Regions from separate parts of the Homo sapiens genome. Here region 1 is linked to region 2. The links come from fine-mapping of genetic effects on gene expression. Tissue or cell type: lymphoblastoid cells. Region 2 holds a variant in brackets; the other region holds the start of a gene. All regions are shown on one strand. Distances are between the middles of the regions.

Region 1 (8,053 bases), 58 kb after region 2:
TAAGTTAGGAATTAGAAATGCGAGCAATCACACAATAAGAATGAAATTCCTTTGAAGTAATTATATTACCATGATTAACAGAAATTATTTAGAAACAACACATTCTCTAGACCTCATCAACCACTGCAGGGCTTTGAGCAGAGGAGTGACATGATCTGACATATTTTTAAGGATCTCTCTAGCAGTTGAAGCTGAAAACAGAATGTAGGGAGAGGCAAGGGTACAAGTGAAGACATAAGATGGGAGGCTACTGCAATAATCCAGGTGACAGGTGATGCTGACCTGGCCCTGATGGTGGTAGCAAAGTGATAAGATGTCACTCAATTCTGGGTGTATTTGGAACATACAGCCAATGTGATTTGCAATGGATGGGATGTGGGCTGTGAAAGAAAGAAAAGTCAAGCATGACTCCAAAAGTTTTTGGCCTAAGCAGCTAAAAGAACAGTATTACCTTTAATTGAGAAGAGAATGATAGTGAAGCATGATGGCGTGTGCCTGTAATCCTAGCTACCTGGGACCTTGAGAGCTTGTTTGGAGGTTCTAGCAGGGGAACGCAGCTACTTATATACCCTTGACCGAAGATTAGTCCTCCTCTATTGGGGATGGTCGTTCTCTTCGACTTGAGTGTGCAGCTTCGGGAGGGATATACATGGAGCAGTGAGGGAGGAAGGAGACACCGGCCTAGCCAGCCAGATCAGCCGGATCAACCCTGGTGATCAACGGGGTGAGAGATGTCACAGCCAGGTTGCCCTCACATCCTACTTGGGAGGCGGAGGTGGGAGGATCACCTAAGTCTAGGAGTTCAAGGCTGCAGTGAACCATGATCACGCCATTGCACTCCAGCCTGGGCGACACAGCAAGACCCTGTCTCCAAAAAAAAGAGAAGAGAAAGATGTCTATGGAGTAGGCTTGAGGGGACTATCAGGAGTTCAGTTTACAGAGAAGTGAAGTTTGAGACATCTATTATATATCCAAGTGGTGACAATAAGTAGGCAAGTGGAGAACAAAGCCAAGTTCAGGGGAGAGGTACAGACATACAACAGACTAGAGATTTGGATGTATCTGCATATAGATGGTGTATTTGTCTGCTTGGGCTGTCATACTAAAATACCACAGACTGGGTGACTTAAACAACAGAAATTTACTTTGTCACCATTCTGGAGACTAGAAGCCCAAGATCAAGGTTTTGGCCAATTTGGTCTCTGGTGGCAGCTCTGTTCCTGTCTTGTACATGGCCACCTTCTTGCTAGTCCTCACATAATCTTTCTTCAGTATGTAAGGGTAAGGGGCAAGCTCTCCATTCACTCTTCTGATAAGGACACTAGTCCTATCGGATCAGGGCCCCACACTTATGACCTCATTTAACCTTAATTATTTCCTTACTCCAAATACAACCACACCTAGAGTGACATCTTTGATTCTAAAAGTTCATGTTCTCACCCATTATGCAAGACTTACAATGGTACAAGCTATTTAAGGCAGACATTTAAAAGAGGCCCAAGTGTTCAGAGAGCCTTTGGCTCCTGGTACTTCTTGTTAGCCACTCAAGTTTCATCTGTCCCAGCATTTTCCCTACCTAGTTGGAGCAACTTGCGTTCTCTGGGCTCCCATCCCAAGACCAAGCTGAAGTGTCCTCAACTCCTCCCGCTGCCAAGGAGCATTTATCTGGTTTCCCAGTGACTCCCAGTCTGGAGGTTACTTTCCCCAGTGCTGTCTCCCATGGTTTCCTACCTAACATCTTATTTCTCTTTCTCCAGTTTCTTCTCTGCCTTCTGTCTGAAGGCTTGTATTCTATTTTTGTTTCAGAATGCATTTCTCTTATGCATTAGAAATGTTTTCATTATCCATTAACTCTAAACAAGAACCTAAAGGCATATAAAAAAACCCTTAGCATAGAACTGCTGAATGACTAAGTCACAGAGAAGAAAAGGCAAATACCTCCACTGCTTCGAAGACTGCACACGCTAAAACTACACAAATGCCAGAACAGAACATTGGATTATCATTATCAAAATTAGGGGAAGGCTGGGTGGGGTGGCTCATGCCTGTAATTCCGGCACTTTGCGGGGCCAAGGTGGGAGGATTACTTGAGCCCAGGAGTTTGAAACCAGCCTGGGCAACATGACAAAACCTCATCTCTACAAAAAATACAAAAACTAGCCGGATGTGGTGGCATGCACCTGAAGTCCCAGCTACTAGGGAGGCTGAGGTGCAAGGATCACTTGAGCCTGAGAGATTAAGGCTGCAGTGAGCCGTGCTCGTGTCACTGTACTCCAGTCTGGGTGACAGGGCAAACAAAAACAAAAATTAAAAAATCAGGGAAAGTACACTGTGAACAAATGTTTATTCAGCAAATTTTTCAAATTATTATTATTATTTTTTTGAGACCGAGTCTCACCCTGTAGCCCAGGCTGAAGAGCACGATCTCGGCTCACTGCAACCTCCGCCTGCCGGGTTCAAGCAATTCTCCTGCCTCAGCCTCCCGAGTAGCTGGAACTACAGGCATACGCCACCATGCACAGCTAATTTTTTGTATTTTTAGTAGAGACAGGGTTTCACCATAGGGGCCAGGCTGGTCTCAAACTCCTGACCTCGTGATCCGCCCACCTCGGCTTCCCAAAGTCCTGGGATTACAGGTGTGAGCCACTACACCCAGCTCAAATAATTTTTTTAAAGTATATTTTCCAGTTTTGTTTTGTATGGCACTGACTCTGTCACTGTGAATTCCATTTTACCCAAAACATTGACACTTCCACACATATTTATGAATCAAAATTGAAAGATAATTGCATTAATAGGTACTTTTATTTTTTTCTTCTTTTGTTTTGTTTTGTTTTGTTTTTTTAAGACGGAGTTGCTCTGTCACCCAGGCTGCAGTGCAGCGTCGTGATCTTGGCTCACTGCAGCATTCACCTCCTGAGTTCAAGCGATTCTCATGCCTCAGCCTCCTGAGTAGCTAAGATTACAGGCATGGACCACCACGCCTGGTTAATTTTTGTATTTTTAGTAGAGATGGGGTTTCACCATGTTGGCCGGGCTGGTTTTGAATTCCTGACCTTAAGTGATCTGCCCGCCTTGGCCTCCCAAAGTGCTGGGATTACAGGCATGAGCCACTGCACCCGGCCGACTTTTGCAAAGGAAATTCTTTGAATCTGAAGTGTCTTGCAAGGTAGAGGCTATTGCAACCATTTCAACTAGTGTGTCAACAGTCTTCTCTAAGGTGGGCTAGAAAAATGGTTTCATATTCAAATTGTAACTCTGAAAAACAACTGATGGTAATAAAGAGATTCCATAATCAGACAGAACTAAGTGAAACAATTAGTTTTGGTAGAGTTCTGTGGTAATCATAGTTAGAAGTTTATCCTGGGTAGCTGAAATATAACTAACTTCAGACTCCAGGCCTGTCGGTGGCTTGTGCCAATCACCACAACACTTTGAGGGGCCAAGGCCAGAGGATCGCTTGAGCCCAGGAGTTCAAGGCTGCAGTGAGCTATGATCACACCACTGCACTCCAGCCTGGGCAACACAGCTCTTGTTTTTTAACAAGACATTGTTACTTAAAAAAAAACTGCCCTGATGAAACAATTCTACCATGAACACTGATGTTGTTCTGTGGACTACTTCAGGAAGATGGACTAAGAACATCATTAAATAGTTCCAACCAGTTTCTGGGTAATTTTATTTTTAATTTTTTGTTATGAGGGTCTTGCTATGTTGCCCAGCCTGGGCTCAAATGATCCTCCCACCGCGGGCTCTCAAAGTGCTGGGTTTACAGGTGTCACACCGCGACAGCCAAGGGTAACTTTTTTTTATTTTTATTTTTGAGATGGAGTCTCGAACTGTCGCCCCGGCTGGAGTGCAATGGCGCGATCTCGGCTCACTGTAACCTCCGCCTCCAGGATTCAAGCGATTCTCCTGCCTCAGCCTCCCGAGTAGCTGAGATTACAGGCGCCCACCACCACGCCCAGCTAATTTTTTGTATTTTTAGTAGAGACGGGGTTTCACTATGTTGGCCAGGCTGGTCTCGAACTCCTGACCTCGTGATCCGCCTGCCTCGGCCTCCCAAAGTGCTGGGATTACAGGCGTGAGCCACCGCGCCCGTCCAAGGGTAACTTTTTAAGAGCTGCCCTACAGCTCATTACCTCCTTCTCAAGGAGCATGAGTGTCAAACCACCTCCAGCAAAGTAGATGTAGTCTTTTACAGATTTGGAAAGAAGGATTTAGGAGGAAAGGGAAGTCGTTCGGAATGAAGGATTTCCTCCTCTGACGCCCAGCCGTCCCCCGTTAAGCCTAAAGGTGCCAGACCTCAAGACTCTTCTAGAAAGAGATTTTTCCTTTCCAAGGTGAATCCATCTGTTCCGAAGGTCAGAAGCTATTTTACCGAAGTTTTCCGTTCCACTGAAAAAATTAAGGGTCAATCAAAGCTCCTTGCCCCAAACCTGAATATGAGCTTGCCTCGGGTCATATTCGACTCTAAAGACTCCACCACACCATCCTGGACTCCCCTATATCTAGGACAAAAAGCGACCAGTTTCTCAGGGGCTCCTTGCGGGGAGCTTACCGCGCCCTCACTGTCCGCCGGCCCGAGTGCTACCGGAGATCACCAGCGGCCCGGACGCCAGCGAGTGGAACATCTCGGTCGCACTCTCATTGGTTCCAGGGGGCCGGAAGTGCGTGCGTCCAGCGGAAGTGCTCCCCCGGCGCGGTCCGCCAGGCCAGTGCCCTCAGGTAGGCGGGGCCCCTGGCCCTAAACTCTGGGACTGGCGGGCGGTCAGGCGGCACAGGGGGAATCCCGGGGGCCTAAGGAGGTTGTCCCAGTTTTTGTCAGGTAGGCCCGGAAGGAGTTTCGGGGACCATGGGTTTACGGCTACCTCTGGTGGCAATTGGGGCCTGTTGGAGCCCGGCCGCCGCGGGACCTACGTGCCGGACTTCAAGTTCCCGCGTGGGGTGGGATTTGCTGCGGTGGCCGGAGCTGATTCTTCACCCAGTCCTGTTGGTTCTGGGCCAAACCCTCCTCACTTTCAAGGAAGAGGCGTGCTCTCCGCCCTTACCTTTTCCAAGCCTCTGGGTTTGACGCCATCCCTCAAGGCGTGTCCGGATGCGGGATTTTCCTCAAAGACCCTCTCGGCCTCGCTAGGAAGAAACTCAGAAAGGCTGCGGTAGGCGCAGTCGAGGGGGAAAGTGCCCCCGCCCTTGATGTCTCAGGCTGCTCAAGTGGAAGTTATCTGGACTGCCTTAGGGCAAGTTTATATATAGCAAATAAAATTACTTGTTAATGGTTTCCTTTTTTCCAGCATCTCCACCCCGAGGTGGTTTGAACTTTGAGCCTTTTGTAGTCCTGATGAATAATTTCATTTTCCTCAAGTTTATGACACTCGGAACGTCAAGAACTGGAGGTTTGTGCAATTTGAGACCGGTCGGCACTGTGCAGAGATCAGAGTACTAAGAGACAGGTGAGCATGAATGAGGACCCTCCGCTCCAGATATAGTGTCTGAGAGCGGTTTCTGTAGTTTCGTAAAAGTGAAAAGTGCACCACATTTAGTGACTACTAGGTGGTGCCAACGAGTTAATCTTTCGGGGATAAATCTCAACTAATGTAGTACCAGGTTAAGGCTTTTAAAATGCACCCATTTTTACTGAAATGTATTCAGAATAGCTTTAGCTCCTTAAAATATGTTGAGCCTTTATATACGTGACCAAATTATCGACGTTCTATTCTGTATTAGGTACTGAGAAAGCTGAGAGAGGAATCAGACTCATATTCTGTTCTCCAGAGTTTAGTCAGAGGAGATAACGTATTATAATAAAATCATATATAATTAAAGGCAGAAATAAGTGCTAAATAGAGAATAAGATTTGAGCTGGGCGCGGTGACTCACGCCTGTAATCCCATCACTTTGGGAGACTGAGGCAAGTGGATCACCAGAGGTCAGGAGTTCAAGACTCGCCTGGACAACATGGTGAAACCCCATCTCTACTAAAAATACAAAAATTAGCCAGATGTGGTGACGCATGCCTGTAGTCCCAGCTACTGGAGAGGCTGAGGCAGGAGAATTGCTTGAACCCAGGAGGCTGAGGTTGCAGTGAGCCGAGATCGCGCCACTGCACTCCATCCTGGACGACAGAGCGAGACTCCGTCTCAAAAAAAATTTTAAAAAAAAAGATTTGAATGCTAAAGAAGAAGCAATCAATTCTCATTATTCATCTACCAGTTGTTTATTCGGCACTTTTTGTCTGTCCAAGATTGTGCTGGATGCTGGTGTATAAAGAAAAGGTAAAGGCCGGGTGCGGTGGCTCACGCCTGTAATCCCAGCACTTTGGGAGGCCGAGGCAGGCAGATCACGAGGGCAAGAGATCGAGACCATCCTGGCCAATATGGTGAAACCCGTCTCTCCTAAAAATACAAAAATTAGCTGGGCGTGGTAGTGCGTGCCTGTAATCCCAGCTACTTGGGAGGCCGAGGCAGGAGAATCTCTTCAACCTGGGAAGCGGAGGTTGCAGTGAGCCGAGATCGTGCCACTGCACTCCAGCCTGGCGACAGAGTGAGACTCCATCTCAAAAAAAAAAAAAAAAAAGGTAAAGGCTAGGCACGATAGCTTACACCTGTAATCCCAGCATTTTGGGAGGCTGAGGCAGGCGGATCACCTGAGGTCAGGAGTTTGAGACCAGCCTGGCCAACATGGTGAAACCTCATCTCTACTAAAAGTACAAAAATCAGCTGAGCGTGGTGGCGGGCACCTACATTCCCAGCTACTCGGGAGACCGAGGCAGGAGAGTCACTTGAACCCAGGAGGCAGAGGTTGCAGTGAACCAAGATCATGCCACTGCACTCCACCTGGGTGACCGTGAGACGCCATCAAAAAAAAAAGAAAGAGGAAAGAAAGAACGAACGAACGAAAGAAAGAAAAGGTAAAATCCCTACTTAAATAATTCACAACCTAGTGATTGGGAGGAAATCAAGGAAGACCTTGTAGAGAAGGTGACACTTGAACTAGACTTTGAAGAATGAACTGGGCTTCATAGGTAGAAAAAAAAATGCAGGCTCAAAAAAGTGCATGACATTTTTGGAACAGCAAGTCATCCAGTGTGGTTAGACTGTAGGAAACTAACTCTGAAAAGACATTGTCAGTTACATCTTGGGTTTGCCTTGACTTTTACTGGAAAATTCCACAGACTTAAGAGAAAAATTAAAATGGACAATTTCCAGGAAAAATCCACTAAACTATTATACATAAGATGTAGCTACAATAAATTACACTTCTGGGTATAATACTTGTTTATGTTTGCATATCATTAATGATCATAGATGACTTATGCCAATTTTAATAGATTAGGTAGTAATTTTTTGTCATTATATTTAATTTTGAATATACTGTAAGAATCCTCTCCAATGAAGTACACATGTCAAATCATCTGGTAATGATTTCATTATGTGTAGGAAAATAAAACATGCTTTAATGCTGTGTGCGGTGGCTCACGCCTGTAACCCCAGCACTTTGGGAGGCCGAGGCGGGCGGATCACGAGGTCAGGAGATTGAGACCATCCTGGCTAACATGGTGAAACCCTGTCTCTACTAAAAAAAATATACAAAAACTAGGCCGGGTGCAGTGGCTCACGCCTGTAATCCCAGCACTTTGGGAGGCTGAGGTGGGCGGATCACGAGGTCAGGAGATCGAGACCATCCTGGCTAACACGATGAAACCCCGTCTCTACTAAAAAATACAAAAAAAATAAGCTGGGCGTGGTGGCGGGTGCCTATAGTCCTAGCTACTCGGGAGGCTGAGGCAGGAGAATGGTGTGAACCCGGGAGGCGGAGCTTGCAGTGAGCTGAGATTGCTCCACTGCACTCCAGCCTGGGCGACAGAGCAAGACTCTGTCTCAAAACAAACAAAAAACATGTTTTAATAAGTTACCTGGAAAGTTTTGTGGTTTGTTTTTTGTTTTTTGTTTTTTTTTGAGTAGGAGTCTCACTCTGTCTCCCAGGCTGGAGTGCAGTGTCACAATCTCAGCTCACTGCAACCTCTGCCTCCAAGGCTTGGATGATTCTCCCA
Region 2 (8,053 bases):
CTCTGAGGAAGGGTGTGCCAGTGTGTTTCGGGAACTCTGAGGAGCCTAGTGTATCTGCCGCAGAATCGGGGAGAGGGAGGAGGAAGGAGAGGAGTTAGAGATGAGACGTGATTCTGCCAGCCGTGGTGGCTCATGCCTGTAATCCCAGCACTTTGGGAGGCAGAGGCAGGTGGATCACCTGAGGTCAGGAGTTCAAAACCAGCCTGGGCAACATGGCAAAACCCCATCTCTACTGAAAAACAAAAATTAGCTGGGCATGGTGGTGCACCCCTGTAATCCCAGCTACTCGGGAGACTGTGGCAGGAGAATTGCTTGAACCCAGGAGGTGGAGGCTGCAGTGAGCCGAGATCGTGCGACTGCACTCCAGCCTGGGCAACAGAGCAAGACTCCGTCTCAAAAAAAAAAAAACCCAAACAACAACAACCAAAAATAAAACAATAGTATAAATGTCCTCATCCTAAGAAAAAATTTTTGTAGCCAGGCACAGTGGCTCATACCTGTAATCCCAACACTTCTGGAGGCCAAGGTGGGAGGATCACTTGAGCCCAGGAGTTCAAGACCAGCCTGGACAACATAGCAAGACCCCATTTCTATAAAAAAATAAAAACAGCTGAGGCTGGGCATGGTGGCTCACACCTGGGTCGGGCTGAGGCAGGAGAATCAGTTGAACCCAGGAGGCGGAGGTTGCAGTGAGCTGAGGTCGAGCCACTGCACTGTAGCCTGGGGACGGAGTAAAACTCCATCTCAAAAACAAACAAATGAACAAACAAACAAATATCTCAAAAAAACAGCTGGGCATAGTGGTACATGCCTGTAGTCTCAGCTGCAAATAAAAAAGCTTGTGTGTGTGTGTTTAAATCTAGAACTCCAGTTTTTAGTTTGAGATGCAATATGATCCAGGCTTTACTGGTTTTCAACAATATTTAAATATTTAAGTATTGAGACCAAAACCTTAAAATCACTTCCTATTATTATTATTTTTTTGAGACAGGGTCTCATTCTGTTGCCCAGGCTGGACTGCAGTGGTGCAATCTCGGCTCACTGCAGCCTTTGCTTCCCAGGCTCGAGAGATCTTCCCACCTCAGCCTCCCAAGTAGCTGGGGCTACAGGCATGTGCCACCACACCTGGCTAATTTTTGAATTTTTCTTTGGTAGAGATGAAGTTTCACCATGTTACTCAGGCTCATTTCCTATTATTAATATGACCAAGCCAAACTTACTGCTGACTTTCCTTAAACCCTATTATGTAAGCAAATCAAAACCCAATAACTTTAGACTAACAATGAGTTTAGAGTTACGCTTTTAAAATCTGTGAGGCGCCGGGCACGGTTGCTCATGCCTGTAATCCCAGCACTTCGGGAGGCCGAGGCGGGCAGACCAACGCGACCAGCCTGACCAATATGGAGAAACCCCGTCTCTACTAAAAATACAAAATTAGCCGGGCATGGTGGCGCATGCCTGTAATCCCAGCTACTCCAGAGGCTGAGGCAGGAGAGTCGCTTGAACCTGGGAGGCAGAGGTTGAGGTGAGTTGAGATTGCACCATTGCACTCCAGCCTGGGCAACAAGAGGGAAACTCCATCTCAAAATCAATCAATCCATCAATCTGGCTGGGCGCAGTGGCTCATGCCTTAATCCCAGCACTTTGGGAGGCAGAGGTGGGCGATCACCTGAGGTCGGGAGTTGGAGACCAGCCTGACCAATATGGAGAAACCCCGTCTCTACTAAAAATACAAAATTAGCTGGGCGTGGTGGGGCATGCCTGCAATCCCAGCTACTCAGGAGGCTGAAGCAGGAGAATTGTTTGAACCGGGGAGACGGAAGTTGCGGTGAGCCGAGATCCCGCCATTGCACTCCAGCCTGGGCAACAAGAGCAAAACTCCATCTAAAAAAAAAAAAAAAAAAAAAAAAATTGTGAGGCAGGCCAGGCGTGGTAGTTCACACCTGTAATCCTAACACTTTGGGAGGCTGAGGAGGGCAGATCACCTGAGGTCAGGAGTTCGAGACCAGCCTGGCCAACATGGCAAAACCCCATCTCTACTAAAAATACAAGAATTAGTCAGGCGTGGTGGGGGGTGCCTGTAATCCCAGCTACTCGGGAGGCTTAGGCAGGAGAATCTCTTGAACCCGGGAGGTGGAGGTTGCAGCAAGCTGAAATCTCGCTACTGCACTCCAGCCTAGGTGACAGAGCAAGAATCCATCTCAAAAAATAAATAAATAAAATAAAATATGTGAGGCAATTTGTTGTTAGCAAATTTACAATTTGCACTACTCATGTAGGGCAGGTGAGCCCCAGAGCGGGGATTAGCCTGCAGAGGTTCTTGGCTTTGCCCAGGAAAGAATTCAAGGGCAAGCCAGAGGGAGAAGAAAACAGCTTTATTGAAGAAGCAGTGTCACAGCTCTGTGACTGCTCCCGCAGAAAAGAGCTACCCCATAGGCAGAAAGTAGCAGCTCAGGGCAGTTTTGTAGTCATATTTATACCCACTTCTAGTTACATGCAGAGTAAGGGGTGGTTTTTTTGTTTTTGTTTGTTTGTTTGTTTGTTTATTCAGACAGAGTTTTGCTCTTGTCACCCAGGCTGGAGTGCAATGGCAGCACGATCTTGGCTCACTGCAACCTCTGCCTCCGGATTCAAATGATTCTCCTGCCTCAGTCTCCTGAGTAGCTGAGACTACAGGTGCCCACCACCACGCCCAGCTAATTTTTGTATTTTTGGTAGAGATGGGTTTCACCATGTTGGCCAGGCTGGTCTCGAACTCCTGACCTCAGGTGATCCACCCACCTCAGCCTCCCAAAGTGCTGGGATTACAGGCGTGAGCCACCATGCCCGGCTAACGGGTGGTTTATGCAGACATTTCTAGGGAAGGGGTAGTAACTTTTGGGTCCTCTGGTCATTGCCATGGAAAGGGGTGCTAACTCCAGGTGTTGCCATGGCAATGGTAAACTGATATGGCACACTGTTTTATGTGTTTTATGAAAAGCTGCTTCCATCCTATCCCTGTTTTAGTTAGTCCTCAGTTTGGTCCGCTGTCCCAAGCCCCGCTTCTGGCTTCTGGAGTTGAGCCCTGCCTCCTACCTCACTACCATGTTGCAACATTGTCACTTCACAGATTTGCAGTTACAAGGCTGGCCTCTTTAAATACCAAAATTTACTTTGAATTAGCATAAGTTCTGGGCCAGGTCCAGTGGCTCAGGCCTGTAATTCCAGCACTTTGGGAAGCCGAGGCAGGCAGATCACTTGAGGCCAGGAGTTCAAGACCAGCCTGGCCAACATGGTGAAACCGCATCTCTACCAAAAAATAAAATAAAAATTAGCTGGGCATGGTGGTGTGCACCTGCAGTCCTGGCTGCTGGGGAGGCTGAGGTGGGAGGATCGCTTGAGCCTAGAAGGAGGAGGTTGCAATGAGCCAAGATGGTGCCACTACACTCCAGCCTGGGCAACAGAGTGAGATCCTATCTCAAAAAATAAAAATAAAATAAAATGAATAAATTAGCATAAGTTCTGGTCACTTTCTGCCAGGTCCACACTTACTAGAACCTCAACAGTCCAACAGTCCAAAAGGCCATATTCCTCATAAGGCTGTTACCCAGGTCAAGCCATGCTTTTTCATCTACTAGATTATGTTAAATAGAAAATAAGACATTCGAGTAGGAGGGAACAGCCTGATGCACGTGCTATTACAAATGTGTGAGCATATACACCTGAAGGTAGGATCTCAAAGGAGTCCACACAAACGTACATTTATCTAAGCTTCAGATGTTTATATTAACCTTCAATCTCAAAGCCACTTCTAATCTCAAGGCAATGTGGGTTGAAGGCAAGAAGGGATCCCTTTAAATCCCAGTGTAGGGCCAGATGTGGTGGCTCATGCCTGTAATCCCAGCACTTTAGGAGGCCGAGGCAGGCAGGTCACCTGAGCTCAGGAGTTCGAGACCAGCCTGGCCAACGTGGTGAAACCCTGTCTGTACTAAAAATATAAAATTAACGGGGTGTGGGGGCGTGTGCCTGTAATCCCAGCTACTTGGGAGGCTGAGGCAGGAGAATTGCTTGAACCCGGGAGACGGAGTTGCAGTGAGCCAAGATCCGTGCCACTGCACTCCAGACTGGGCAACAAAGGGAGACTCTGTCTCAAAAATAAATAAATAAATAAATAAATAAATAAATAAACTAATTAAATTAAATAAATATATCCCAGTGTACACAGTAATCTGGGACAAGTTAGTAACACCACCACCTTCTTGGGTTCATAACAGGACTAAAGGCGAGGACTTGCACAAGTTAGTCAATATCTGTGGGCATTAACATGGGGCTTCTCCATTTCTGAAGCACGCACCTTCAGTGTCCTTGGCTGCTGTGGGGGTAC[A/G]CCAGGAACTCCCAAATCCCAGGTTAGCTCCAAATATTAAAACCCAAGCAAGGCAGAGGCAGGAGGATTGCATGTGGCCAGGAGTTTGAGACCAGCCTGGACAACACAGCAAGACACCGTCTCTACAAAAAAATTGAAAAATTGGCCAAGTGTGGTGGTATGCACCTGTTGTCCCAGCTACTTGGAAGGCTGAGGTGGGAGGATCGCCTGAGCCCAGGAAGTGAAGGCTGCAGTGAGCCATGATCGCACCACTGCACTACAGCCTGAGCGACAGAGCAAGACCCTATCTCAAAAAACCCAAGTAAACTTGCTTCTTTGTGCAAAGACAAGCTGCCTTTCTTCTCACTGCGGTTTGGCAAATGCTGGGAGAGAGTGATGCCAGAGCCCGGGTGGGAGCTGCAGGATCAGTTCCTGAACACTAGTTTTTAGACAAAAGGGAGTGATTTTCTGCCCTCAAATGAGATGCCAGCTGGAGCACATCATGAGATGTGTGCTGTGTATTTGCTGGTGACTTATTTGACCCTTAGCATCACTGCCAACAGGCATTTACCTCACTTCTACTACTAAAAAAGAGGCAATCAGCCAGGCACGGTAGCTCACGCCTGTAATCCCAGCACTTTGGGAGGCCAAGGCGGGTGGATCACGAGGTCAGGAGTTCAAGACCAGCCTGGCCAAGATGGTAAAACTCCGTCTCTATTAAAAATACAAAAATTAGCCAGGAGAGGTGGTGGGCACCTGTAATACCAGCTACTCAGGAGGCTGAAGCAGGAGAATTGCTTGAACTCAGGAGGCAGAGGTTGCAGTGAGCCGAGATCGCACCACTGCACTCTAGCCTGGGCAACAGAGAGAGACTCCATCTCAACAACAACAACAAAAAAAGAGGCGATCATTTATTATTTTCCTAGACCCTACAGTTTAAAGATCTAAGTACTATATCTGTGATTTTTTATGGAATGTATTTTCCTTACATGTACATGAACAAGCATATAAATTTAAAGTTAATTATATATTCAAGTAAATCAGTAAAATTCAAGATTGCTAGCTGAATTTTTTTTTTTGTCTTATTGACTTATTTTTTTTGAGACCAAGTCTCATGCTGTTGCCCAGGCTAGAGTGCAGTGTCGTGATCTGGGCTCACTGCAACCTCCACCTCTCAGGTTCAAGCGATTCTCGTGCCTCAGCCTCCCAATTAGCTGGGACTACAGGCATGAGCCACCATGCCTAGCTAATTTTTGTACTTTTAGTAGAGATGGGGTATTTCACCATGTTGGCCAGGCTGGTCTCAAACTCCTGACTTCAGGTGATCCACCCACCTCGGCCTCCCAAAGTGCTGGGATTATAGGCGTGAGCCACCTGCCCAGTCTGCTAGCTTAATTATTTTTTTTCAAGATGGAGTCTTGCTTTGTCTCCCTGGCTAGAGTGCAATGGCGCAATCTCGGCTCACTGCAACCTCCACCTTCTGGGTTCAAGCAATTCTCCTGCTTCAGCCTCACAAGTAGCGGGATTACAGGTGCATGCCATCATGCCCAGCTAATTTTTTGTATTTTTAGTAGAGGTGGGGCTTCACCATGTTGGCCAGGCTGGTCTTGAACTCCTGACCTCATGATCCACCTGCCTCAGCATCCCAAAGTGCTGGGATTACAGGTGTGAGCCACTGCACCCAGACCAACTTAATTCTTAAGATAAAATGTATTATAGTATTATGGCTGGGCACAGTGGCTCACACCGAGATCGCGCCACTGCACTCCAGCCTAGGCAATAGAGCCAGACTCCATCTAAAAAAAAAAAAAAAAAAAAAAGAGTATTACAGTATTATGTAAACAACCACTCTAGTGCTATAAGTGTGACCTAAGTACTTAGCACTTTAACAAATTGATGTAAGTACTTAGTACTTTAACAAATTAGATCTGAAGTTGAAACACAGTTGCTGGTTTTCAGAAAACCGTTCTGGATTTAAGGGTTTCTGGATAGGCGACCTCAGAACATGGCACCTTATGTCCATTTTCACGCTGCTGATAAAGACATATCCAAGAGTGGGTAACTTATTATTATTATTATTTTAGACAGAGTTTCACTCTTGTTGCCCAGGCTGGAGTGCAATGGCACCATCTCAGCTCACTGCAACCTCTGCCTCCTAGGTTCAAGTGATTCTCCTGCCTCAGCCTCCCAAAGTAGCTGGGATTACAGGCGCCCGCCACCATGCCCAGCTAATTTCTTTTTGGTATTTTTAGTTGAGACGGGGTTTCACCATGTTGGCCAGGCTGGTCTTGAACTCCTGACCTCAGTTGATCCACCCGCCTCAGCCTCCCAAAGTGCTGGGATTACAGGCGTGAGCCACCGAGCCTGGCAAGAGTGGGTAACTTATAAAGAAAAAGAGGTTTAACTGCCGCAGTTCCACGTGGCTGGGGAAGCCTCAAAATCATGGCAGAAGGCAAAAGGCACGTCTTACATGGTGGCAGGCAAGAGAGAATGAGAGCCAAATGAAAGGGGAAACCCCTTGTAAAACCATCAAATCTCATGAGACATTCACTACCACCAGAACAGTGTGGGGAAAACTACCCCATGATTCAATTACCTCTCCTCAGGTCCCTCCCACAACACATGAGAATTATGGGAACTACAACTCCCATGAGATTTGGGTGGGGACACAGCCAAACCATATCACTTGGCATTTGAGGAAATAACAGTAGCAGGAAGGTCCCCCTCAGACCTTCTTTTGCCCCTCTTCCCTGAAGCAGGCCATAAAAGAATTCTCTGCTCTTCCTCTGAAGAAGATCATAAGACTCTCAAGTGAGAGGTGCTTTTCCCATACCCAGAGGAACACTCTTATCTCTTGGGATATGAAAGAGCAAAATAAATGCCCCTTTATCAACTAAGATGGGCCCTAAGGTTAAGAAAACAAAAATTGGCCGGTGCGGTGCCTCACGCCTGTAATCCCAGCACTTTGGGAGGCCAAGGTGGGCAGATCACGAGGGCAGATGTTCGAGACCAGCCTGGCCAACATGGTGAAACCCCGTTTCTACTAAAAAATACAAAAATTAGCTGGGCGTGGTGGCGGGCGCCTATAGTCCCAGCTACTCGGAGAGGCTGAGGCAGGAAAATGGCGTGAACCCGGTAGGCGGAGCTTGCAGTGAGCCGAGATCGTACTACTGCACTCCAGCCTGGGCAACAGAGCGAGACTCCGTCTCAAAAAAAAAAAAAAAAAAGAAAGAAAGAAAGAAAGAAAAAAAGAAAACAAAAATTGCCCACGGGTCAAGGGTTCAGGGATTGGCCGGCACGGCAACTTCCCAGATTCCTAAAGCTACAAGAAAAACTACACTCGTGGCAGGGCGCGTGGCTCACACCTGTAATCCCAGCACTTTGGGAGGCCAAGGCGGGTGGATCACCTGAGGTCAGGAGTTGGACACCAGCCTGACCAATATAGTGAAACCCCTTCTCTACTAAAAGTACAAAATTAGCCGGACGTGGTGGCTGGCGCACGCGTGTAATCCCAGCTACTTGGAAGGCTGTGGCAGGAGAATCGCTTGAACCGAGGAGGCGGAGGTTGCAGTGAGTTGAGAGTCCGCGCACCGTTGGCACCGCGATGAGGGCGGGAAGCACAGCGCGGGGCCCCCGGGAGCAAGAACGCCGCGGGCACCCAGCCCTCGTGGGAGGCGGCGGTCGGGGCACGCCCCGGGCCGAACCAGGCTC

Evidence for each region. PIP is the estimated chance that this variant, and not a neighbour inherited with it, causes the effect.
Region 1: LZIC starts here. The variant in region 2 is fine-mapped to the expression of LZIC in lymphoblastoid cells (GTEx, PIP 0.93).

What each region holds. Positions count from the first base shown.
Region 1 is chr1:9,940,024-9,948,076 of GRCh38, reverse strand. It overlaps LZIC (leucine zipper and CTNNBIP1 domain containing), which reads left to right and starts at 4,686. Exons shown (of 8, transcript NM_032368.5): 1 at 4,686-4,828; 2 at 5,295-5,453. It overlaps NMNAT1 (nicotinamide nucleotide adenylyltransferase 1), which reads right to left and starts at 4,602. Exons shown (of 5, transcript NM_022787.4): 1 at 4,562-4,602. It also overlaps the pseudogene RN7SKP269. RefSeq lists enhancers at 4,517-5,086, 4,354-5,553, 5,087-5,657.
Region 2 is chr1:9,997,924-10,005,976 of GRCh38, reverse strand. All of the region lies in intron 1 of RBP7 (retinol binding protein 7), which reads right to left. It overlaps LOC124903840 (basic salivary proline-rich protein 2-like), which reads left to right and starts at 7,888. Exons shown (of 2, transcript XM_047436754.1): 1 at 7,888-8,053. The coding sequence starts at 7,947. RefSeq lists a silencer at 6,800-7,000. The variant A/G (reference allele first, on the strand shown) is at 4,364.